4 linked regions of the Homo sapiens genome follow. The protein of the gene in region 2 interacts with the protein of the main gene of each other region in a biochemical or structural test. Each region holds a gene or a part of one and is shown on either strand. Other genes may lie near its edges.

What was found.
Region 1: the proteins of USP21 (region 2) and YOD1 form a complex in vitro, tested with the Homo sapiens proteins (2 studies listed by BioGRID, with this or other methods).
Region 3: the proteins of USP21 (region 2) and AURKA form a complex in vitro, tested with the Homo sapiens proteins (2 studies listed by BioGRID, with this or other methods).
Region 4: of the proteins of USP21 (region 2) and MAPK3, one has a biochemical effect on the other in vitro, tested with the Homo sapiens proteins (one study listed by BioGRID).

The regions. Positions count from the first base shown.
Region 1 is NC_000001.11:207,043,312-207,047,019, reverse strand, and holds the end of YOD1 (ubiquitin thioesterase OTU1), read left to right. Parts: 3' UTR 1-3,171; downstream 3,172-3,708. UniProt on the Homo sapiens protein: Hydrolase that can remove conjugated ubiquitin from proteins and participates in endoplasmic reticulum-associated degradation (ERAD) for misfolded lumenal proteins.
Region 2 is NC_000001.11:161,155,139-161,162,536, reverse strand, and holds the start of USP21 (ubiquitin carboxyl-terminal hydrolase 21), read right to left. Parts: upstream 3,038-7,398; 5' UTR 2,859-3,037; exon of another isoform or gene 2,837-2,858; coding exon of another isoform or gene 2,771-2,836; exon of another isoform or gene 2,172-2,770; 5' UTR 2,031-2,171; exon of another isoform or gene 1,918-2,030; coding exon of another isoform or gene 1,897-1,917; coding exon 1,297-1,896; intron 500-1,296; coding exon 440-499; intron 268-439; coding exon 147-267; intron 1-146. Other genes in the region: UFC1 (ubiquitin-fold modifier-conjugating enzyme 1), read right to left, coding at 4,045-4,125, 4,326-4,416, 4,844-4,920, 5,220-5,283, 5,520-5,587. UniProt on the Homo sapiens protein: Deubiquitinates histone H2A, a specific tag for epigenetic transcriptional repression, thereby acting as a coactivator.
Region 3 is NC_000020.11:56,368,890-56,375,252, reverse strand, and holds the end of AURKA (aurora kinase A), read left to right. Parts: intron 1-1,696; coding exon 1,697-1,845; intron 1,846-4,593; coding exon 4,594-4,768; intron 4,769-4,912; coding exon 4,913-5,095; 3' UTR 5,096-5,863; downstream 5,864-6,363. UniProt on the Homo sapiens protein: Mitotic serine/threonine kinase that contributes to the regulation of cell cycle progression.
Region 4 is NC_000016.10:30,113,605-30,120,257, forward strand, and holds the end of MAPK3 (mitogen-activated protein kinase 3), read right to left. Parts: intron 4,935-6,653; coding exon 4,745-4,934; intron 4,560-4,744; coding exon 4,443-4,559; intron 4,181-4,442; coding exon 4,066-4,180; intron 3,682-4,065; coding exon 3,550-3,681; intron 3,400-3,549; coding exon 3,290-3,399; coding exon of another isoform or gene 3,233-3,289; intron 3,187-3,232; coding exon 3,064-3,186; 3' UTR 3,032-3,063; intron 2,042-3,031; exon of another isoform or gene 1,991-2,041; intron 1,105-1,990; 3' UTR 501-1,104; downstream 1-500.

The sequences.
Region 1 (3,708 bases), about 46 Mb from region 2:
AACAATTATCAAATTGAGCTTTATGCATCATTACTCAGAAAGCTTGCCTTCCTTTCTTTGCTACTTCAGGACACAGAGTTGACATTTGCTTACTACAGCTTTAGATCTAGAAGTTTATTCGTGCAACAAATATTTATTGAGTAATTTATACTGTGCCAGGCATGTTTTGATATGTTTCTGTCATATGTTTTGATATGTTCCAACATAAGTTTCTGTCACTTTATATTCAGTATATATTTTCTACAGTGGGTAAATTTAACAAATGGAAAGGAATAGAACACTGATATTTTACAGAATTAAACCCCTTCATTGTAAGGGCTTTGTTTACATATTAAGTGTCAAGTATTTATTCAGGGGATCTTATTTCATTGTATTTTATCTGTTATCTAGGTTGTCCATTTACCGGTTGGACACTGATACTCTGTCAAATTCCTTTCAAAAATGACTCTTTAGTCTGCTGAAATTTAGCACTAGTACTTTAGTGTTCTGATCCTGGAAAATTCAAGGTGAAGCTTTATTTGTGGACCATCTGATTTAATTATTGAGGATTAAAAACCTAAACCTTTGCTCATTCTAAACTCAAGCTTTTAAGCCTCACAGAATTTACAGGGGTTTGCTTTTTGTTTGTTTGTTTTTTCATTTTTTACTGTGCTTATTAAACTCTTGGAATTAGTTATTAAAGGGAGTAAATTCTCATCTTGGGAATTTTGAAAATCTATGGACTTACAACTTTCAGGAGGATTAAATGTCTTAAGTTTTGTACTAGAGCAGAATGAAATCTTTCCTATTCATTGAGTTTTTGCCTGCCATAGAGGAATTTTTTTAAAAATTAAAATGACAGTTTATATTAGTGGCAAAGTGAATAAAGACCTCACTTTCCCACCCCACCCTTCTTCCTTTCTCTTACTTTTCTTTGGATTAAAGGTCAGGTGTAGTACTATGAAGATTCACTCCTGAATAAAGTGATTTCAGAAGCTAAAATTTAACATACCTGGAAATTTTGTGATGTGTTAGCCAAGTGAAGACATTAGTGTGTTCCATCTTTTGCTAATGGTTCATGGTTGATTTCTTCATTGTTTCCCATGAAATTAGCATAGTCAAGTGGTACCCTTGACGCTTGACTGCTGGTCAGTTTGACCCTGTTTTTAACAACTAATGTAGTCATGCCGCTTGATTATTCCATGAAGTCCCAGCAAAATAATAATGAGGAATTAACTAACATTATGTTATCTATCTAATTTGTCTGTGTCCCTAAATGCCCATGCCTAACTTGCTTCTCTAGTTTATTCCTTCTGTGGAGGGATTAAAACGTGGGTGTTGCAAGTTGCCCTAAGCTAAACATAGTTTTCTTACATCTTTTTGGGAAAAAAAATGGAATGGGAAGTATGCAAGATTAAGCAAGAGTGATTTTTTTTTTTTTTTGACAAATCAGGTGGCCTTCCTAAACATACTAAGAATTATGTTCTTTCATGTGTGGAGACACATTTGTTTGCAGCACTTTAAAAAATATATATGGAATAAAAGTTTACATGTTGGCCCTCTAGGGATCTAATTAAGGACATTAAAGTACAATTCTTGAGCTACTAACCATCAGCTCTTCTTAATCAAAGATTGCCATCAGTGTAGAGTGTATCTATTGGCACAACATTCTGGTGTTTTGATAACAGTAGAACTCAATTTCAGTAACTATTAGGAGCATGGTCTGTGCCCTAGCATTAAAAATGTTACTTATTATTATGTGAATATCTTGTATTATTATACAATGCAGTATTCAAATTTGTCCTTGTAGTGCAGAGATGACTGATAATTTCTAAAAGATTCGATCCTTAAAACTTGTTTCCAAGCAGACTTATAAGGAAGCTGATTTTTGAGTCAGAGGCCTTAAACGTGTCATATACAAGTGGCATCATTTTAAGTCCAAAGTGAAACACTTGATTTGAATAAGCTAGTTTATAAACTAAAGCTGTTTTCTTATGTTACAGTATTTCAGCACATTTCATTCCACATAAAAAGAATATTAAGTGTCCCTGGTTGTGGGAGAGTGTTTATTTTTCTCAAAATTATCTAGCATTTTGCTTACAGTGCTTTGAATGTTTGACTTAAAATTATTATTGATGTTGAATTGTAGGGTGCTGATTTAGGTCTTGATTCATACACATTTAAAGGAGGTTGGTAACCCCCTCATGGTAGAGTGAAGGGAGAAAAGGGCCAAGAAGACAAAGTACCACTGATAAAGAAGAGATTGTCAAATAGATGCATTCCTAGTCATGAATTACCCTTTTCCAAACATTTTTAAAGCAATGCCTTTGTGTCAACTCAACCCTTCTTCCCCATTTCTTGTCATAGAATGTAGCATGGCCATAGGTGAAAAAGCTTATCATTAAAGTATGAAACCATGAATTATAAGCATTTTGCCATGATGCCCTTTTATACATATGTTTTTAAAAGTACTAACCAACATATAGGAGTTTAGGAATGGTGAAGATATAATTTGATTAAGTTGTAGGTAAACAGAAAGGATCATCTTAGGCTCAGAATTTCTAATATGATTACATGAGTCTACTTTATAAACTGGTATAGGCTATGTAATTAGCCCGTAAGTTACTTAAAGGACCAGGGGACCTAATTTTTGTCAGTTTTCCAGTCACATTGGTGCCATTCAGGACTCCAGCTGTTTACAGGAAATATGTACTTAGCAGAATAGTATTTTTCCTTGAAAAAAATTTGAATTCAGCCTAAATACAGAATGAATATGAATAGTTTGTGAAAAGGGTTAGAGAACAACAATATTCCTATAGTTTCTGTATTAATGCAGTAGAGACAGAGGTTCCTAACGCAAAAAGAAAACCACAAGTAAAGACCGTCAAATTAGAGCTTTAGAATATGACTTGAAAAAGTAGGGATGGGCAAAACAGCATAAGAAAATATTTTTTCTTAATGCAGATGGACAGTGTTTTCTTGTTTTAAAAATGTTTTGCCTATTTGCCAGCATTTTTTGAAGTAATACACTGCTGCTACCTGGAAGATGTCTAACTTCATTTTCTACAACTCTTATGTGATTTTGCCATTGTCATTAAGATGCATTGATTTTATTTATGAGGTGTATGACTTTAAATATCTAAATGCTGTATTAAGTGACTTGTTTCAAAGGAATAAATGAAGTGAAAACGTTGTTTGAGTATATTTTGGGATCAGGGCAGATATGGCCACTGAACGGCTATTTTACTCAATATACATATTATCAAAAGCTTACCGAATCTTTAACTAAGGTACCAAAATCTGCCAAATATCACCCTTTAGGCGGACTCAATGAATGAGACAGGAGAAACTAAGGTATTTCTCCTTAACGAAAGGTTGAAATTCCCATTCATTGACTAAATTTTTTTCTAAATCCAATCCTACAAGTTGTAATTCAATATTTGTTGCTGACAAGTTGTCAGTGTGGAAAGGCTTAATATTTATTTTCTAATAGACTGCAATCTTTGTGAACTTAGATCTGTTTGAAAACAGCAACATCACTATAGGAGGGTTTATTTCATCTTTGGCAATGTCAACATTTAAACATGTATTTGAAGCAACCCTGTGGCTATTACAATTGGCCAGAGTTCAGGTTCCCTAACTAAACTAAACTATTTAACCCATTCTTTCTCATTGAAAGCTTTAAAATTATGGACGTGGAAGTATAATAATATCTAATCAGTTTGTACA
Region 2 (7,398 bases):
AAATAACCTTTAGGAAAGTAGGCACTGGGAAAAGTAGATACAACTGCCAGATTTAAGGGTTGGGGGCCACCACCAGTGGCAGATGGACCTGCAAGTGGTTGGGGAAAAAGGGACTTGAACAGAGGGAGCAGGAGTTGTTGCCCCACCTTCAGTGAGCTCTTGGGCTCGGCCTCCTCCAGGCACCTCTTGCCGGAAGTCCCTTCTCAGACAGAAGTCCCGAAGAGGTCGAGTGCTGCTCAGACACTGCAGCACAGCATTCAGGAAGCACTGGGGAGCAGTAGGGACACTGCTGTTATCTCTCCAGACCACTGCCCAGGAAGCCTTAGAAGAGCTTCAGAGCTCTCCTTCCACATGCCTTCCCCAAGCTCGTGGGTTTTCCCCACCCCCAGCACCATTTCACATTCCTTTTAGAGAGGAAAGATAGGAGAATAGCTCTCACCGTGTTTCCCAGGTTTCGAAGGCCAACATGACCAGAGCCCAGAAGGAGTGTGTGATGAGCCTGGAAGGTCAGAGTACAATCGGCAAGTTCCTATATATCCTACCTGGCACTTTAACCTTTCAACAGCATGCTGCCCACTGCCTCCCCCATCCCATGCATGTTTCATCCCCAAACTCTACCCTATTCCCCTCACTAGGTATTCTAGTCTCCCTACCTCACTGGTCATGAGCAGTAAGCCCATCACAGCTGAATGTACCACGGACTCAGCCATGGCTGTCCCACCTGTTGCCCACTTACTCCTCTGCTCAGCTAGCTGACGTTGCAGCTCCTGGGGCAACTCCCCCAGCACCGGCATGGTTGCCCAGCTGCTCACCACTCCCACCTTTCTGCCCCCAAAACCCCCTCCTGCCCCCGTGGCCCCTTCTTGCCCTTCTCCTGCTGGCTCCAATTGCAATCAGCCTAGCTTACTTAGCTCAGAAAATGTGCAACCACGTTTGCTAAGATGTTCTGTGCCTGCCTCTCTTTAGCTCCAGAGATTAATTAGGCCTAGGCAGAGTCCCAGTAGAGAAGGTGCAAGCAAGGGAAAGGAAGGGCCTGGGGACCCAAAGAAGAATTCTAAATAGTTGGGGTAATCCCCTGGGGACCGAAATGGCACACCATGCTGAAGAGTCACCAACAACCCAAAAAAGGGTCTAGGAGGCTCAAGGGTATTTAAGCAAGGGAGAGGCATGTCCAAACTGCTGTAATGAAGGGCTGAGAAAGGAACTTCAGGGAAATGGGGGACAGAAAAGGCAGAGGATGGCAGGAAAGCACAGAGGAACATGGGCATGAAGGCCATGTGTGTGGCAAGTCCTCACCATCTTGTCATCAGAGTAGAAAGGCTCAGAGGACCGGGCGGATATCATGTGGAAGGAGCCATGGGAAGCAGGGGGCTCTGTCCGTATGCTGAACAGGGTAGGGGGTCCAGGAAAGCCCCCTAGGCGGCGGAGAGAAGTGCTACGTCTCAAAGTGGGTGGCTCAGGCCGGAGGGCCAAGCGGCTCAGTGCAGCCCCAAGCTCTCCGGTGCCACGGTGCCCTCCCAAGGCAATCCCCATTGGACGCAAGTCCCCACTGCTCACAGACTTGGAACGGGCTAAGTTGGTCCGAGATGGGAGAGGCAAAGCCACTGTTGGGGGTGGTGAGCCAGGCAGGGGAACCCCATGATCTGCTCGAAGGGGGCCTCTGGGACGAGGGCCTGAGGTCCGTCCCCGTCCCAGCTCCAGTTTCTTGAGCCGTTCATCAGGCAGACCTGGCCGGGGAGGCAGAGGTCGTAACATGGGGTTTGGCCCAGAGGCTGGGTTTCTGCGCTCCTTGCTGCGGGCCCTGGGGGCAAATGGTAGCTTGGATCCCACTCGGGGCTGGATATTAACAGGTGGCTCTCGGGTACGGCCCAGGCGGTGCTCAGAGGCCTGGGGCATTGTGGACACCACAGGCTGGACCTGGGAGGAGAAGAGAGTGTCAGCATTTGAATATGGGGGGAAATGGGAACCCAGGCTGCTGTACTGAACCCTGCCACACTAATTTTCCCTTATTGCTTTGCCCCATTCCATACCCACAATCTTGCTGTCCTCTCATTTCCACATTAGGTGGTTGGCTCAGTCATCACCACTACCACATCAACGAAAGTGGGGAGCAGTATACGCACTGAGGGCAGGAACCAGATCTATCGAATCAGCCATCGTATCCCCAGTACCTGGCATCGTGTTTGGTACAAAGTAAATACTTAGTATCTATTGGGTAAACAAATGAATGAAAGATAAGCAGCCCATGGCTTTGACCCTTTCTATACTCCCGACCCCTCCCTGCAGAACACATCTTTACTGAAAAGCCAGTGATAACTCCTATCTCGGCTCTAACGTAACATGGGACCCCATACCCGGCTAGTAAAGTAGGATGTGCCTCGGGTCACTTAAGACCCTAGCCAAATGGTAGTGTAGATGCAAGAATAACAGCCCAAAAGACAGCCCTCCATCCTCGAATCCCTGCCTCTCTGGGCTGCAAATGAAGCAGACTATATGGGTGACTTACGATCCATTCCCTCCCCCACCTCCGACCTCCGACATGGTGTCGAGGTTCAGAAAGCAGTAGTCGGGGATGGAGGACGAACAACTCCTTGACCCTTAATCTCTGCACTTCTCCCACCACAGCAGGGCTTTAGCCGGGTCCGCCCCCCTCGAGGGCAGAAAGGCCGAGACCGCTGATTGGCTACGGAATCCGGCGGCGTATTCCCCGCGGTCCAGGGATGCTGTCCCTCCAGCCCAGTTCTCCCAGGCCCCGCCGGGCCCCACGCGCCTTTGTGGAGAGTGTCCTCTCGGGTCTGGAGCAGTCTTCCCTCTGCGCCCCCCCACACCCCGCCATGCCATAACGCCCCGGCCCGTACCTGTCCCCCAGTGAGGCGGCGGGAGAGGCCAGCCAGGGCCAGGCCCCAGTTCAGGGCCACCCCCTACTACCCCCGTGCAGCCCCCCCGTGGGCCCGGCTGCAGCTTTAGCCGCAGCCGTTGCCCAGATCGCTCCCGCCGCAGGGGCCGCCGCCATCTTTGTTGGTCCCGCCCGGCCACCGGCCACCGGCTTCACCGTCTCTCAAAGCGCCTGCGCATCCACACCCGAACTCCTCCCACCGGTCCCTTGGCGCTTGCGTGAGCCCGCCCCCACGGCTCCGCGATCGACACCATGGAAACGCAGCCAAGTTTAGGGTCGCTGGTTCTCAACGCTGCCCAGAGAGGTCTTTAATCCATGACTCCAAAGCAAGTCCCTGAGGTATAGGGTGCCGTCGCCCCATCCTATAGCCCATAGGGATGGAGATCTGACAGTCGTAGTATGGCCGCGAGGCTTACAGCACAGATCCTTCCCAAACAGCAGGGGCGCAAGTATGGCAAACTGCAGGCCTGGGTCCAGCCCGCAGACCAGTGGAGAAGCATCTAGCACTTCACAGAGGGCTGGGAAGATCCCTGGAGGGCGGGAAGTGCTGGTCCGGCAAAACCACTTCTTGCAGGCTAACACGGTAGGGCAAAGCATGGCTCACCACTAAAGGACAAAGGTAGATCTGAGCAGCAGGGGGAACAGTCAACATTTCATTCCCACTCCTGACCAGAGCATCCCCTATTTCCGACTCTTTCCCAACCCAACCCGGCGTAGCTGTTCATGTGCCTCAGGTTTCAGCCCACTTGCCCTCTGTTAACAGCTCCCAATGAGAACCACAGGCTACCAGAGGAAGCAGCTTTTATTGATGGGTTATCTCCAGAAACCAGAAAGACTATATGTACTCACTTTCAGTTACCCCCGTGCCTCCAGAATCGCATGTTGCTCCACCTGGGGGCGGATATAAATTACCTCTAGATTGTCCAAAGCCCAGTCTTTCCCTTCCCTGTGCAGCCTTAGAAACTAAGTAGCAGTACTGTTTGGTGTGTGTTTGTTTCTTCCCCAGCAATGCCTACTGCAGCTACTTAGTAACAACTAGAGGTGGAGGGTGTCCGGGGAAGCAGTTAGATGAGTTAAGTGTGATGCACAGGAAAATAGTATCGTAGCCTATCAAAGGTCCCTCTGCCCTGCCTCAGTGGCTTGATTCTTCATTGGTTGCATTTCTCTTTGTGTTGGATGACGCCCTTCTGAATCAGATCAGGGATTTCCACTGCCAGCCATGGACCCAGCTGCAATACAAGGAAAATCCTGTGAGATTACTACCAGTCAATGCTTCTTGTTCCATTAGAAGCTCCTTCCTGGAGACAGATTCTGGGGGAACATGCTTAAGGGACATCACTGTTATTCCTTTTATTCTTAGCTGCTTTTCTTGTACTGCTCAGGGCCTAAGTCCCTCTTTCTCCTTTTATGCCAAATACACAAAACTTACCCCCAGAGCCATGAGATGAGCTAGTCCAAATTTGGGCACATTCCTGGCCCACAAAGGTTTGAAATGATCCGTCAGGCATATTTTGCCACCCCTATGAGAGGGACATGAAGAAGGTGTTGACATGCAAAGTTTACCATAAAGCACAGCAGCCTCTTGGGGGCATAGGAAGACTACTAGTGATCAGAATTGAGAACAAGTTCAGCTAAGTACTTTGCTTAGGCTCAGCAAAGGAGGGCCTGGCACCCCACTAGGCCAGCAGACCCTGGGAAAATCTCTGCCTCCAAAGTTCTTCCTTTTTTTTTTTTTCCTTACATCTTTTAAGTTCAGAGGTACACATGCAGGATGTATAGGTTTGTTACATAGGTAAACGTGCCATGGTGATTTACACATAGATCATCCCATCACCCAGACATCAAGCCAAGCATCCATTAGCTATTCTTCCTGATGCTCTCCCTCCCGCCACGAAGTTCTTCCTTAAGGCTTTCTTTGACTCTTTGCCATCTCCTATTCAGTCCTACCTGTACATCTTTGCTGTCTTTCCATCCAGCTCAGGAACTGCAATTTCTGGGGCAGTAGTAGGATATGTGATAGGAATCTGGAGAAATTATAAAACCTTAATAAAACAGAATCAGGATAGAAAGGAACTAATATAATCAGACATACATATTTCTTGGTTAAACTGAAATGTTAAGTAAAACTCCCCAAGGAGCACATCCATACCAGGATTCTGGATGTGGAGATGAGTAAATATAACTTATGCTTGCCTCAAACCTCAGCTTTTCTCTCCCATTTTTAAAGTTTTCTTTGGTCCCTTCAAGAAAGGATAGCTTGTTACCCATCATCTAATCCCTCCCCTTCTACTAACCTTCATATTTCCCACTCTATCACACTCACGTCAAACTCGATGTCAAACTCATATTTCAGGAGGTCATGGATATACCAGCATTTTCCAAACCACCTGTAACAAAGACCAAACCTCAGTCCAATTTGCCTATTCTTCCAGTACTCAAATGATATCTTGGCTTAGGCCACCAGCCTGGGAGACTCATAGGATGGGAACTGGGGAACTCTGGCGCTGTGGGAGTGGAGACAGCTAACATGTGACAGGGCAGCTTTGGTAGTGGGCGCTAGGATACCAAATTGCCTAACTCATATAAGACTCCCACCCCACACCTCCCAAGAGGGTCTACCTACCGAGTTCCTTCCTTGTTGGACTCCAGTCGGAACCAATCGTTGTCAGCATTCTTGTTGTTCTCCACATACTGAAAGCAGAGAATGAGGTCTTTGAGAGAGTAGTTGGGGCCAAGGGCAGTCCCCCTCTCCTCAAAAGAAAAGTATGTGGTTATTTTTTTTATTTTTTATTTTTATTGAGATGGAATCTCGCTCCCGTCGCACAGGCTGGAGTGCAGTGGCGCAATCTGGGTTCACTGCAACTTCCACCTCCCAGGTTCAAGCGATTCTCCTTCCTCAGTCTCCTGAGTAGCTGGGATTACAGGCGTGCACCACCATGCCCGGATAATTTTTGTATTTTTAGTAGAGACGGGGTTTTGCCATGTTGGCCAGGCTGGTCTCGAACTCCTGACCCCAGGTGATCAACCTGCCTTGGCCTCCCAAAGTGCTAGGATTACAGGCGTGAGCCACTACACCCAGCCGGTTTTTTTTTTTTTTTTTTTTTGAGACAGTCTCGCTCTGTCACCCAGACTGGAGTGCAGTGGCGCAATCTCGGCTCACTGCAAGCTCCATTGCCTGGGTTCACGCCATTCTCCTGCCTCAGCCTCTCAAGTAGCTGGAACTACAGGTGCCCGCCACCATGCCCGGCTAATTTTTTGTATTTTTTTTTTTTTTAGTAGAGATGGGGTTTCACCATATTAGCCAGGATGGTCTCGATCTCCTGACCTCGTGATCCGCCCACCTTGGCCTCCCAAAGTGCTGGGATTAGAGGCGTGAGCCACCACGCCCAGCCTACTTTTTCTTAATATGTTTACCTAATTTTTCTAACATTAGCAAAGCTGAAGACAAGGCTATACTGGTAAGTGGGGGTCTGCCCAGAACAGAGAATAGAATGGGCTCCACTCAATTTAGCAAGCACAAAAGACCTGAAGATACCATCTGGATTCTCCTCTCACTTCTCTGATAGTGTCTGCCCTCAGCCCACAACTCATTTAATGATAGACTCCTTCCCTGGGTAACTCCCTTCTAGCCTCATATAGTCCTGGTTTCAACTAACACCCACAGGCTAATGACTCCCAGATTTTCATCTTTGGTCCAGATCTTTCCTCAGAACTTCAGCCTTTAGTATCCAACTGTATGTTGACGTTTTGACCTTCATTTCACAGGTACTTCAAACTCAGCATTTCCATCTGGAATTTTTTATATTCCTTTGGATACACTTCCTGAATTATCCTCCTGAATTATCAATTTCAGGTGGCAGTATGAGCATTCACCCAAGGCAAAAACCTGGGAATCATCTTTGACCCTCCCTATCCCTTACTACACTAATCCATGTTATGCTAATTTTACCTTCTGAATATTCTACAAATCTACCTCTCCTCTCTATCCTCACAACTGCCTAGTTTAGATTGCCTTTTGTTTCGCTGAGATTAATGACAGCCTAACTTGTCTCTTACCTTCAGTCTTGTCCCTGTCAATTGTATTTTCCCCTTATTGCCAATGTGACTGATCTAAACCCAAATCGGCCATGTAATTCCTCAGCTTAATAACTTTTAACGGTATCCCAAAGCCTCCAAGAGAAAATTCAAGTGCTCAAATATGTCTCCTAGCTTTGTCTACCATTCCCTGCCTCACATTTGATGCTCTAACAACTCTGAGCTACTTTGTTTCTTCAAACACATCATGCTGGTGCCTGTGCCGTTTCTAGATTCTATGCCTTTGCTCATGCTGTCCCTTTTGGCTTGAATGTCCTTCTACTCTTATGTTTTATCAGGCTAGCTTATGTTTACTCTTTAAGTTTCAGCTCAAGCATTACCTCTTCCAGGAAACCTTCCGTGACCGAATGCAAACTGGATGTCTCCTCTTATGCTCTCAAAACATCCTAGCCATTTCTCGCTTTATA
Region 3 (6,363 bases), on a different chromosome or scaffold from region 2:
GGAAGGAGGCTGAGGTGGGAGGATTGCTTACGGCCAGGAGTTCAAGGCTGCAGTGAGGTATGATCATGCCATAGCAATCCAGGCTGGGTGACAGAGTGAGACCCTGTCTCTTAAAAATAAATAAGTAAATACATACATACTGGACTTGTTTGCTAAATCTTAGCGATAGGGACTGTAAAACTTTTCTTTTTCTTGCTTTTTTTTGAGACGGAATTTTACTCTTGTTGCCCAGGCTGGAGTGCAATGGCATGATCTCGGCTCACTGCAACCTCTACCTCCTGGGTTCAACCAATTCTCCTGCCTCAGCCTCCCGAGTAGCTGCGATTATAGGCATGCACCACTACACTTGGCTAATTTTTGTATTTTTAGTAAAGACAGGGTTTCACCATGTTGGTCAGGCCGGTCTCGAACTCCTGACTTCAGGTGATCCACCTGTCTTGGCCTCCCAAAGTGCTGGGATTACAGGTATGAACCACTGCACCTGGCCAGGAAAACTTTTCTTACAAGATGGTAATTCGGTCGGGTGCAGTGGCTCATGTCTGTAATCCTAGCACGTTGTGAGGCTGAGATGGGAGGATCACTTGAGGCCAGGAGTTTGAGACCAGCCTGGTCAACATAGTGAGACCCCCATCTCTATTAAAAAAAAAAAAGATAGTAACTTAAGGAAATAAAATTAACAAAAGGACTGATTTCTTATGTACTTCTATGCTGACTTAGTGTAACCCAAAATTTAACATGCTATTTAATATGTCAGTGCAACTGCTTTTTAGTTTCTGTTTATTGTTCAGGATAATTTTTTCTCCTGATATTCTTGAAGTAAATTTTTAGCTTTAAACAAATTCTTCTGTCACAGAATGACCTTGGTTTTAAAAAAGGGAATTGACTATACTTGCAAAGTTCATTTTTTTTTTCTAAAAAAGAAAAAGGCAGTATTTACACATCTGAATCCTTAATTTGTACCAGTTCTTCAGCACTGTCTTACTTCCTGGCTGCAGGGCCATTTGTTGCCGTATGGTGTTGTAACTTTAGGTTGGTGCAAAAGTAACTGTGTTTTGCATTGACATGGCACCAGCCTAAGAGCTAGCTCTAACTGGCTGAATGTCTTTTCTGACTTTCAACATCACACCAGCTGTATTAGCAGAGATGACTAAGCATTGGGTAATTTCACTTCATGCTAACCACTATAAATTGGTTCAGTTGATGTGTGTGTGTGTGTGTGTGTGTGTGTGTGTGTGTAGACTCCTATATAATTTCTACAATCCTTGCTTTAAAACCTGCAAAATGTATTTTTTGTTTTGTCTTTTCCTTTTTGAGACAGGGTCTCCTTCTGTCACCCAGGCTGAAGTGTGATCATGGCTCACTGCAGCTTTGACCTCCTGGTCTCAAGCAATCCTCCTGCCTCAGCCTCCCAAGTAGCTGGGACTACAGGCATGCACCATCACGCTCAGCTAATTTTTAAATTTTTGTAGAGATGGAGTCTTGCTATGTTTCCCAGGCTGGTCTTGAACCCCTGGGCTCAAGTGATCCTCCCACCTCAGTCCCCCAAAGTGTTGGGATTATAGGTGTGAGCCACTGTGCCTGGCCAAAACCTGCAAACCATGTTAAATCTATGTTGTGTTCCTTTCGGAAGAGATGTCTAATATTAACTTGTGTTATATAAAATCTAAAACATAGGCTTTCAATATTGTTTTAACAGTATATAACAGAATTGGCAAATGCCCTGTCTTACTGTCATTCGAAGAGAGTTATTCATAGAGACATTAAGCCAGAGAACTTACTTCTTGGATCAGCTGGAGAGCTTAAAATTGCAGATTTTGGGTGGTCAGTACATGCTCCATCTTCCAGGTATGTAACTTTAGAGGTGGAAGTTGTTTGGTTTACCAAAGCCCTGGGAGCTAACCGTGAGCTAAATGTAAAATATTTCAGTGTAGATTTTGTGCTGTAAGAGGGGTAGGTGGCTAACCCAGAAGTACTTTGGAGTAATTTAGGCTTAATAATAAACTAGGGTTTGCAAGAAAGTGTTATTCTGTGGAGATTTGGGGCTATTAGCAGTGTTCTAGGCCTAGGGTTGAAGATGCTTAATGTCCTTAGAGGCTAATGAAGGGATGAATGAGTCAACAGATAGGACACGTATATGACAGAGGTGAAGTGCCCACATGTTGAGTGGGAGGAACTCTTCACCTCTGCTGCTTCCTGGATGAGGAGATGGGGAGATGGTTCAGAGGACAGCACTGACAAAGATCTAGAGCTCAGAGTGCAGGCCATATCAGGGAACTTGAAACACTAAATTAGTTTGGTGGTGCTTTGAGGGCAGTGGTGAGAGATTCTCTTCAGTCTGCCTCTGTCAATAGTAGGGATAGTCCTTTCTTATCCCCTGTCACAGCTGAAGCAGAGATGTCAGTCTCAAAACAATTCAAATCTTAGCTTTCCAAGTGAACTACAATATCTTTACTGTTTTAAATTTGAGTTTAAATAAGCTTTGAAACTTCACATGAAGTGGGGCATTTTAAAACATATATCTACCGATGAAGTTTTGTCAACTTTGGAGGAGGACTCAAATTATAGCCAAATGACTTAAAAATCAAGCTAGTTAAAAAAAAAGTATAGCCTAAAATAGAATATGAGGGAGAAAACCTTTGCTTTTGTTACAGAGCACTTCTAATTGTTCCAGCAATGCACTGAATCTGCTATTGCAGTCTTTTTTTTTTTTTTTTTTTTTAAACTGGTTGTCATTAGTGGGAGCTGTTATCTGGTGAGACAAACCAGAATAAAGACTTACAGGCTTCATGGAATCGCAGAGTTAAACTGTATCTTAACCGGTTGAATTGTGATAGAAAAGATGGCTTCTTGCTTTTTGAAAAGATTACTTACATAACCGATAGTCACTTCACTCCAAATCCCAGATGTTAATCATCATCATTTCCTGGTTATTGCCTCAGTTTGAGAACCCCCGATTCAGTCCGTCGGTGCTGATGGAGGGGTTAGATGACCAGAGTGGTAGCTTCTTAATCCTACGTCACAATTCAGTGGTGAGTGACTGTTTGTGTGCTCAGTGGGTGCCAGGCCTGGCTGAACACAGCACCAGGGCTGTGACCACGTAAGCCTCCATGGTGAAGAGCAGCTGATAACAAAGCAACACGAACCCACACAGACTGTTCTGGCTTGCTGTCTGCTGTTCCCAGCTTTTTTCCAACCTTCGTTAAAAAAACCTAAACCGATAAAAATGCGGAATTGGTAGTTGATGGCATACCTGTCTATACAGTGCCTACGTTCAGCAGTTTTTCCCATTTAGTCAGAAGGGCTGCATCTGCTTTTTTAGTGAACACTTGAAAATACGTTGCAAACATCATGATGCTTCAACCTTAAGCACTATAATAGAATGCATTTCCTAAATAAGGATATTCTCCTATATAACTAGAACCATGATCACTCCTAAGAAAATTAACAGCATTGTCAGTATCTAATATTTAGTCCACATTCAGATTTCTCCTATTGTCCATGACATCTTATAGCTGGTTTGTAAAATCAGAACTCAACCAAAGCCCATGCTTTGTATTGGACTGTCTATGTGGTTGGATTGTCTCTGTGGTTGGACTGTCTCTGTGGTTGGACTGTCTCTGTGGTTGGATTGTCTCTGTGGTCTAAAGCCAGACCAGTCTCCCACTTTAAAGAGGACTTTTCTGATTGTGTTGCCACTTAACTTGGACCTTTATTCCCCGTATTTGCTGAAAACTGGAATGTAGGTCTCAGGTCCTGAAGAGATTCAGGTTAAGAAAATTTTTTTTTTTTTTTGAGACAGAGTCTCGCTCTGTCACCCAGGCTGGAGTGCAGTGGTGCGATCTTGGCTCACTACAAGCTCGCCTCCCGGGTTCACGCCATTCTTCTGCCTCAGCCTCCTGAGTAGCTAGGACTACAGGCGCACACCACCACACCCGGCTAATTTTTTGTATTTTTAGTAGATACGGCGTTTCACCATGTTAGCCAGGATGGTCTCGATCTCCTGACCTCGTGATCCGCCTCCCTCGGCCTCCCAAAGTGCTGGCATTACAGGCATGAGCCACTGCACCCAGCCAGGTTAAATATTTTTGGCAAGAGTACTTCATAGGCCACCCTCAAAATTTCAGCATCACTCGTACCAAGTATCTATCACAAGGCAGCATGTGTCTACATCTCCACCCCAGTGCTGTTACAGTGGGACAGTTTCTAGTGTATTGTCATTGCGACCAGGCTTTTAAGATTCTTAGCATATCTGTAATATCCACATGCAGATGTAGAATCCAAATCGTATTTACAGAGAACTTTGCATGGCAGCTTTTATATGGTAGTGATACATTCAGTTTCTTACATTCTAGATTATTCAGGGAGGTTCTGGAGTTGGACAGATTTGGGGTTAAGCCTGATGGCTAGCTGTGTGACCTTACACACCTCGCTTCATCTGTTTCCTATGGGAATTTATAATAGTAGCTACTTCCTAGGGCACAGGATCTGGCCCAGGGGAAGACCTCAGTGTTAGTGGACTCTTTAATGATTGTTAGCAGCTGTTGTGATCATAAAACGAGAAGCACATCAACCTGAGCCTCCCTCCGTTTTCAGGAGGACCACTCTCTGTGGCACCCTGGACTACCTGCCCCCTGAAATGATTGAAGGTCGGATGCATGATGAGAAGGTGGATCTCTGGAGCCTTGGAGTTCTTTGCTATGAATTTTTAGTTGGGAAGCCTCCTTTTGAGGCAAACACATACCAAGAGACCTACAAAAGAATATCACGGGTAAGACGCAACTGAAAAGGACCCAGCACATCTGCTGGAATTCTTTCCTTATCAGCCTGAACTGCAGGCCAAGATCCGAACATCTATACTATTTGATCTCTCTAACCTGTGTTTTGTGATATTTTATCATTTGTTGTACTCCAGGTTGAATTCACATTCCCTGACTTTGTAACAGAGGGAGCCAGGGACCTCATTTCAAGACTGTTGAAGCATAATCCCAGCCAGAGGCCAATGCTCAGAGAAGTACTTGAACACCCCTGGATCACAGCAAATTCATCAAAACCATCAAATTGCCAAAACAAAGAATCAGCTAGCAAACAGTCTTAGGAATCGTGCAGGGGGAGAAATCCTTGAGCCAGGGCTGCCATATAACCTGACAGGAACATGCTACTGAAGTTTATTTTACCATTGACTGCTGCCCTCAATCTAGAACGCTACACAAGAAATATTTGTTTTACTCAGCAGGTGTGCCTTAACCTCCCTATTCAGAAAGCTCCACATCAATAAACATGACACTCTGAAGTGAAAGTAGCCACGAGAATTGTGCTACTTATACTGGTTCATAATCTGGAGGCAAGGTTCGACTGCAGCCGCCCCGTCAGCCTGTGCTAGGCATGGTGTCTTCACAGGAGGCAAATCCAGAGCCTGGCTGTGGGGAAAGTGACCACTCTGCCCTGACCCCGATCAGTTAAGGAGCTGTGCAATAACCTTCCTAGTACCTGAGTGAGTGTGTAACTTATTGGGTTGGCGAAGCCTGGTAAAGCTGTTGGAATGAGTATGTGATTCTTTTTAAGTATGAAAATAAAGATATATGTACAGACTTGTATTTTTTCTCTGGTGGCATTCCTTTAGGAATGCTGTGTGTCTGTCCGGCACCCCGGTAGGCCTGATTGGGTTTCTAGTCCTCCTTAACCACTTATCTCCCATATGAGAGTGTGAAAAATAGGAACACGTGCTCTACCTCCATTTAGGGATTTGCTTGGGATACAGAAGAGGCCATGTGTCTCAGAGCTGTTAAGGGCTTATTTTTTTAAAACATTGGAGTCATAGCATGTGTGTAAACTTTAAATATGCAAATAAATAAGTATCTATGTCTGTGTGGAGTGCTGTGTAATTCTTTCCACCATCTGTTCATTGTTGGCCTGGAAATGAGCAGGGGCTGAGAGGAGCAGGTCTCGCCCTCATCTAGTCCTGCCTCTTCTGGTCTCTCCTGTTGGGTGTACTCCTAATACTTCATTATATATATTGTTTATATATTTGTCATATCTTTGTCATCTGTCCATCGACTAAAGATACGGTGAAAGTGACTGTGATGAAGGAAAAGTAGAAGTGTTGAACTTAGAGCTAGTAGAGAAATCTGCTTGCATGGCCAATGCTCAGTGCAAGAAACTGGACAGCAGGTATGTCAGGATATGTCATAACAAAGTGGCCAATATAGAGAAACTTAAAAACATGACTCAGTAAAACTGCAGCTGCCAGCCCCCTTGGGACAAAGGGGCTTCTGGTTCTCATAGTCTTGAGCTGAACTGACTTTGACCTTCCCAAATAGTTCATGTGCCACCCTCCCAAGCTATAGTTATTATCACGTGACTGAC
Region 4 (6,653 bases), on a different chromosome or scaffold from region 2:
TGCCGCTGGGCTGGCTTGGAGCCAGGCTGCAGGGTTCGGCTGAAGCTGGGGTAGTGTCAGGAGGTGAGGCAAGTAGCCCTGGCTCTCATATCCCCAGGCCCTTCCCAGCCCCCAGCAGCCCCGTCCTGGGCTACATGAGGGGAGTAAAAACCACCCAGGACTGTCAGGACCTCTCCCTCTCACTGGTACTTGTAGCCAGCGCATCCAACATGCCTACCCCTTGCCATTTCAGAGGATCCAGGGGTGTGTAGGGTGCTCCTGAGTCACCCCGAATCACCCCCAGCCAGTTAGACAGGAAGCCATTAGCGAGAGGACAGGACAGTGACTAAGGGGAAAACTGACCCCCTTCTTTCTAGGAGTCTGGAGCTCTCCAGAGCCCCGTCCCCAGCCCTGGGCAGCTGGGAGTGAAGGGCACCAGGCCCCTGAAAGCCCAAGTCAAGTCTGTCCTCAGAGCCGCACGGGGCAGGGCGGGGGCGTCGCGAACACAGACAGAGCCAGGGTCAGCCATAGACACATCTCTATATTTATATATTAGACGGGTCAGGGAGGTGGCAGGGGCGCCGGGCTCTCCACGCCCCCCAGCTCCACTTCTGCTCACCACACACAGAAGCAGCGAGGGCACGCGAAGTGACAGCTTTGACAGGGAGGGGATTCGGCCCGGCCTGGCTCCTCAGGGATGCTAGCCCTTGAGACTAAGGAATGTTCCTTCAGGGAAACTAGGGTGGGGTTTGAATGAGATGAGGGGGGCAGGCATGGCCCTGAGTCCCTACTCAGCGCCCCCCACCCTCCACCTCTGCCCTTCAGCAGGTTGGGGCAGCCAGAACCCTTCCATTCCAGAACTGCCAGAGACTGGGACGCTGGGGAAGGTAAGGGCGCAGCAGCAGCAGCGGGAGATTGAACTGGGGCCACCTGAGGTCCCGAGGCCCCGTGGGGAGGGCGGGTGGGGAGGAGAAGGCCTTGGCCTGCCTGAAGCTGGAGGCCTCAGCAAAGGAGAGAGGTGGCCAGGCCCATGCTCCACCCCGGCCTGGGCTGCCAAGGTCCGGGCTGGGCACAGTGTCCATTTTCTAACAGTCTGGCGGGAGAGGGGCAGGCAGGAGGCAGGTCCTAAAGAGAGAAGCAGGCAGAAGAGGAGTCGTTAGCACCCCCCGGGCAGACCCACTGGAGCCCTGACCTCAACATCTCTCATTTCACCCTCACAGCTGGATAGGCTGGGTCTCAGTTTCCTTATCTGTAAATGGAGATAATAATAGTACCTAGCTTGAGGTACTGCTGTAAGATTAAAGGAATTAATACATGTAAACCTCTTAGAACAATGCTTAGGGCTTTATGCTTTCATTATTAGAACTGTCTCGGCCGGGCACAGTGGCTCACGCCTATAATCCCAGCACTTTGAGAAGCTGAGGTGGTGGATCGCTTGAGCCCAGGAGTTTGAGACTGGCCTGGGCAACATAGCAAGACCCCAGCTCCACAAAAAAAAAAAAAAAAAATTAGCCGGTTGCAATGGCTCGTCCAGCTAGCTGGGAGGATCCCTTGCACCCAGGAGTTTTGAGGCTGCAGTGAGCTATGATTGCACCACTGCATTCCAGCCTGGGTGACAGAGCGAGACACTGTCTCAAAAAAACAAAACCAAAAAAAAAGATAAATAGATTGACTCCGGAAACTGAGGCGCCGAGAGGTGAGGTGCCTTGCCCAATATCACACAGCACTTACTAAGTGGCACAGCTGGAGTTTGAGCCCAGGTGCGCATGCCTTCTTTCTATCAGGCCACACCTGGCTGAAGACAGGAAGAGACCGGAGGAGGCAAGGAGGCAGCGTGGGTGGGGGCAGGCCAGTGGGGTCCCCACAGCTATGTGAACTGCTGATCTGGCAGCAGGTGTGAGGAGGCCTGGCAATCTGGGTCAGGCTGGGCGCTGCTGGGCCCCTCCCAAAGCAATCATGGCCCCACCTGCTTCTGCCACACCCAGAGCTGAAGCTTGGCTCAGGTCCTCACCTGGGTGACAGAGGCCCTCAGTGACCTCTTGCCTCTTTGCCAGTTCTGTTCCTAGAAGGAGATTAGAATGGCTTGTGGGGCTGGAGGATGCAAGGTGTTGACAGGCAGAGACATTTGGGGCTGGAGGACTCGGTGGGCCACCAGTCTGGGCAGCCTTGGGCATTTTTTTTTTTTTTTTTGAGATGGAGTCTTGCTCTGTAGTCCAGGCTGGAGTGCAGTGGTGCGATCTCGGCTCACTGCAACCTCTGCCTCCTGGGTTCAAGCAATTCTCCTGCCTCAGCCTCCTGAGTAGCTGGGATTATAGGCATGTGCCACCACACCCAGCTCATTTTTGTATTCTTTACAGTAGAGACCGGGTTTCACCATGTTGGCCAGGCTGGTCTCAACTCTTGACCTTGTGATCCACCCACCTCGGCCTCCCAAAGTGCTGGGATTACAGGCATGAGCCACTGTGCCCAGCCCTTTTTTTTTTTTTTTTGAGAGAGTCTCACTGTTGCCCAGGCTGGAGTACAGTGGTGCAACCTCCGCCTCCCAGGTTCAAGCAGTCCTCCCACCACAGCCTCCTGAGTAGCTGGGACTAGAAGCGCATGCCTACGTGCCCGGCTAATTTTTGTATTTTTAGTAGAGACAGGGTTTCACCACGTTGGCCAGGCAGGCTGGTCTCGGACTCCTGACCTCAGGTGATCCACTTGCCTCAGCCTCCCAAAGTGCTGGGATTACCAGAGTGACCCACTGTGCCCGGCTAATTTTTGTATTTTTAGTATAGATGGGATTTCACCATGCAGGCCAGGCTGGTCTCAAACTCCTGACCCTCAGGTGATCCACTCCTCTCAGTCTCAGTCTCCCAAAGTGCTGGGATTCCAGGCATGAGCCACCACACCCAGCCCCCTGGGCACTTCTGTTGTCACCAGACACATTGACCATGGGTGTGGGGTAAGCTTGCTGCTGTATGGAGGCATGTACAGATAGATATAGATATAGATATACAGATATAGATATTTAGTATCAGGGTGTCCATGTGTGGGCCATGGAGACACTCACCAGGCCCCAGGGTGCAGAGATGTCTGTCTGGGCTAGGGGGCCTCCAGCACTCCGGGCTGGAAGCGTGCTGTCTCCTGGAAGATGAGCTCCTTCAGCCGCTCCTTAGGTAGGTCATCCAGCTCCATGGCGAAGGTGAAGGGCTCCTCGGCCACTGGCTGGGGTGGTAGAGACAGCAAGGCTCAGGCCTGGCATGGGGGATGCCTACGTGCCCCCCTGCTCCCCTGCCCCCAGCCCCACTGCTGCTGGGGACTGGCCCACCTCATCCGTCGGGTCATAGTACTGCTCCAGGTAGGGGTGAGCCAGCGCTTCCTCCACTGTGATCCGTTTATTGGGGTTAAAGGTTAACATCCGGTCCAGCAGGTCAAGGGCTATGGAAGGGCAGGAGTCAGGGGTCACAGGGAAGACTGGAGGAGCTCCGAGAAGCATTGCTTTGCCTGTCTCCTCCAGCGGCTGCTGGGCTCACACACCCTCCACGACACCCAAGGTTTATCCCACACCCACCCTCATGTCTCTCGAACCTTTGGAGTCTGACTTGGGGAAAAGCTTGGCCCAAGCCACCTTGGTCTTGGAGGGCAGAGACTGTAGGTAGTTTCGGGCCTTCATGTTGATGATACAATTCAGGTCCTCCTGGGATGGGGAGCCCAGGATGCCTGTGGATAAGGAGGTGACTTGGTAAATGATCACCTCTTTCTTTCTGGGAACAGAATAGGCAACAAGGCAAGAACAAGACCCCCCAGCCCAGCAACCCATGCCAATCCCTCAGTCACCTCCTAGTCATTAGCATGGTGGTGCAGAGCAAGGGGGCTGGGTTCAGGCAGACCGAGGCTCAAATCCTAGGTCTGGTGCCTCCTCAGGTGTGGGACTTAGCCTTGCTTTTCCCATCTATCCAATGGGGATAATATCTATACCTCATTGAGATACCATGAGATGCTGGAGGCACCCCACACGTGGTGGTATCCCTGACTTGGACTCTCGAGAAATCTCACCTCGGAAAAGCTAATCATCCCCAACTCAGCCAGCCGGGCCTCCCTCACCCAGAATGTGGTTGAGCTGATCCAGGTAGTGCTTGCCAGGGAAGATGGGCCGGTTAGAGAGCATCTCAGCCAGAATGCAGCCCACAGACCAGATGTCGATGGACTTGGTATAGCCCTGGGGGAGAGGAGGAAGTGGTGAGCTCCTGGGCCAGCCTCAACAGGGTCCTGTTGTCTGCGCCAGGCCACCACCTCCAAGTTAGATCCAACACCAGGCAGAAGGCAGAGGCCTGGAGGGCTCAATGCTCAGCTTCCTTGCAGAGCCCAAGGCCCAGAGGGTAGAATTCCTGTGTCATGGGGGTCAGTGTCTGGCTCAGAGGTAGCTCCAGGGCTTCCTGGGAACTGGTCCGTTCCTTTCAGGAGTGGGCAGCCCCTCCTACCTTGGAGTTCAGCATGATCTCTGGGGCCCGGTACCAGCGCGTAGCCACATACTCCGTCAGGAAGCCGGTGTGGTCATGCTCAGGATCGGCAATCCGGGCCAGGCCGAAATCACAAATCTGGAATCAGACCTAGCTGCTAAGCTCGGCGCTCAAGGCCTCTGCAGCCTAAGCAGTCACGCCCCCTTGTCTTTGCCTCCACTGTTCCCTTTGCTTGCAATGTTCTCCTGCCCAAGGCTTCTTCTACTGGTCACTGGAAGCCCCAGACCCTGGGGGAGGAGGGGACAGGTGCCCAACCCTCTGACCTTAAGGTCGCAGGTGGTGTTGATGAGCAGGTTGGAGGGCTTTAGATCTCGGTGGAGCACGTTGGCGGAGTGGATGTACTTGAGGCCCCGCAGGATCTGGTAGAGGAAGTAGCAGATATGGTCATTGCTCAGCTGCTGGCTTTTCAGCAACTTGTACAGGTCAGTCTCCATCAGGTCCTGCACAATGTAGCTGAGGATGGTTCCGCAGACCCCCCCAGGCAGGGGGCAGTGGGAGGCACTTGGTTAAGGAAAACAGGCTCTGAAGGCGAGGCTGCACACCTCCTCCAGCCAGGGCCCCTGGGACTCAATAGATCTGCCAACCTGCACCACCAGCTGGGGAAGCTGCTGCCATTACCCAGCGGCAGGGCTCTGAGCCTCTGTTGCATCACAGTTGCTGATCCTGAGCAAGGGGCTTCATTTCTGAGGCCTCAGTTTCCCTACCGGGGAAACGGGGATAATAATAAACTGTGGGAGGCAGGAGAACTTCACAGTTAAGAGCAGCAACTTGGGCCAGGAGTGGTGGCTCACACCTGTAATCCCAGCACTTTGGGAGGCTGAGGCGGGAGGACTGCTTGAGGCCAGGAGTTTGAGACCACCAGCCTGGGCAACATGGCAAAACCCTGTCTCTACTAAAAATAGCAAAATTAACTGGGCACGGCGGCATGTGCCTGTAATCCCAGCTACTCAGGAGGCTGCAGCACGAGAATCACTTGAACCCAGGAGGCAGATGTTGCAGTGAGCCAAGATTGTGTCACTGCACTGCAGCCCGGATGACAGAGTGAGACTCTGTCTCAAAAATAAATAAATTAAAAAAAAAAAAAAACCTACAAAAAGAGCAGCAACTCTGGAGTTAACCCATGGATGTCTGAAATCTCCTCTCTACTACTCACTGGCTTTAGGATCTCAACCTGTCTGTGCCTCAACTTTCTCATCTGGTATGTAGGGGAAATAATGTTTTTTTGTTTGTTTGTTTGTTTTCTTTTTGTGGAGATGGGCTCTTGCTCTGTTGCCCAGGCAGGTCTTGAACTCATGGGTTCAAGTGTTCCTTCCACCTCGGCCTCCCAAAGTGCTGGAAATTACAGGTGCAAGCCATGAAATAATGGTTCTTTTGAGGGTGGTTGTGAAGACTAGATGAGATGGCGCATGTAAAGCTGTCAGCCCAGTGCTTGGCAAGTTGTGAGTGCTAGGCAAACATGAACTATTATTACTAATATGAATGCCTGAGTCACATGGCTGTTGAGGGAGTTAAATGAGATAATGTATGAACACCATCTGGCATGCAATAAATGTTTGCTTAAAAATAAATGCCTGCCTTATGGGAATGGTTTGTGCAAGAAAAATGAGGAGACACTCCCAACAGCACACTCCCACTCAAAGGAGAGTGCTTGGCCATACCTCAGAAGATGGAGGAGTAAAATGTCTTTTTCTATTTGAAGATACAAAAAAGCTTATGCGTAAATAAATAAATAAATCCACAAATGCTGTTTGGCTTGTCTCTAGAAAAATAAGTCAGGGCTGTCTTTTAGAATCTGCCTTGAGACCAGGCATGGTGGCTCATGCCTGTAATCCCAGCTCTTCAGGAGGCCAAGGTGGGTTGATGACCTGAGGTCAGGAGTTTGACGCCAGCCTGGTGAACAGGGCGAAACCCCGCATCTACTGAAAATACAAAAATTAGCCGGGCGTGGTGGCAGGCGCCTGTAGTCCCAGCTACTTGGAAGGCTGAGGCAGGAGAATAGCTTGAACCTGGGAGGTGGAGGTTGCCGTGAGCTGAGATTGAGCCACTGCACTCTAGCCTGGGCAACAGAGGGAGACTCCATCTAAAAACAAACAAACAAAAAACAAAGAAAACAAGAATCAGCCTTGAAAGGGTCTTCAGAGAATATGTGGACCAGCCCTGCTGTTTTAGGGC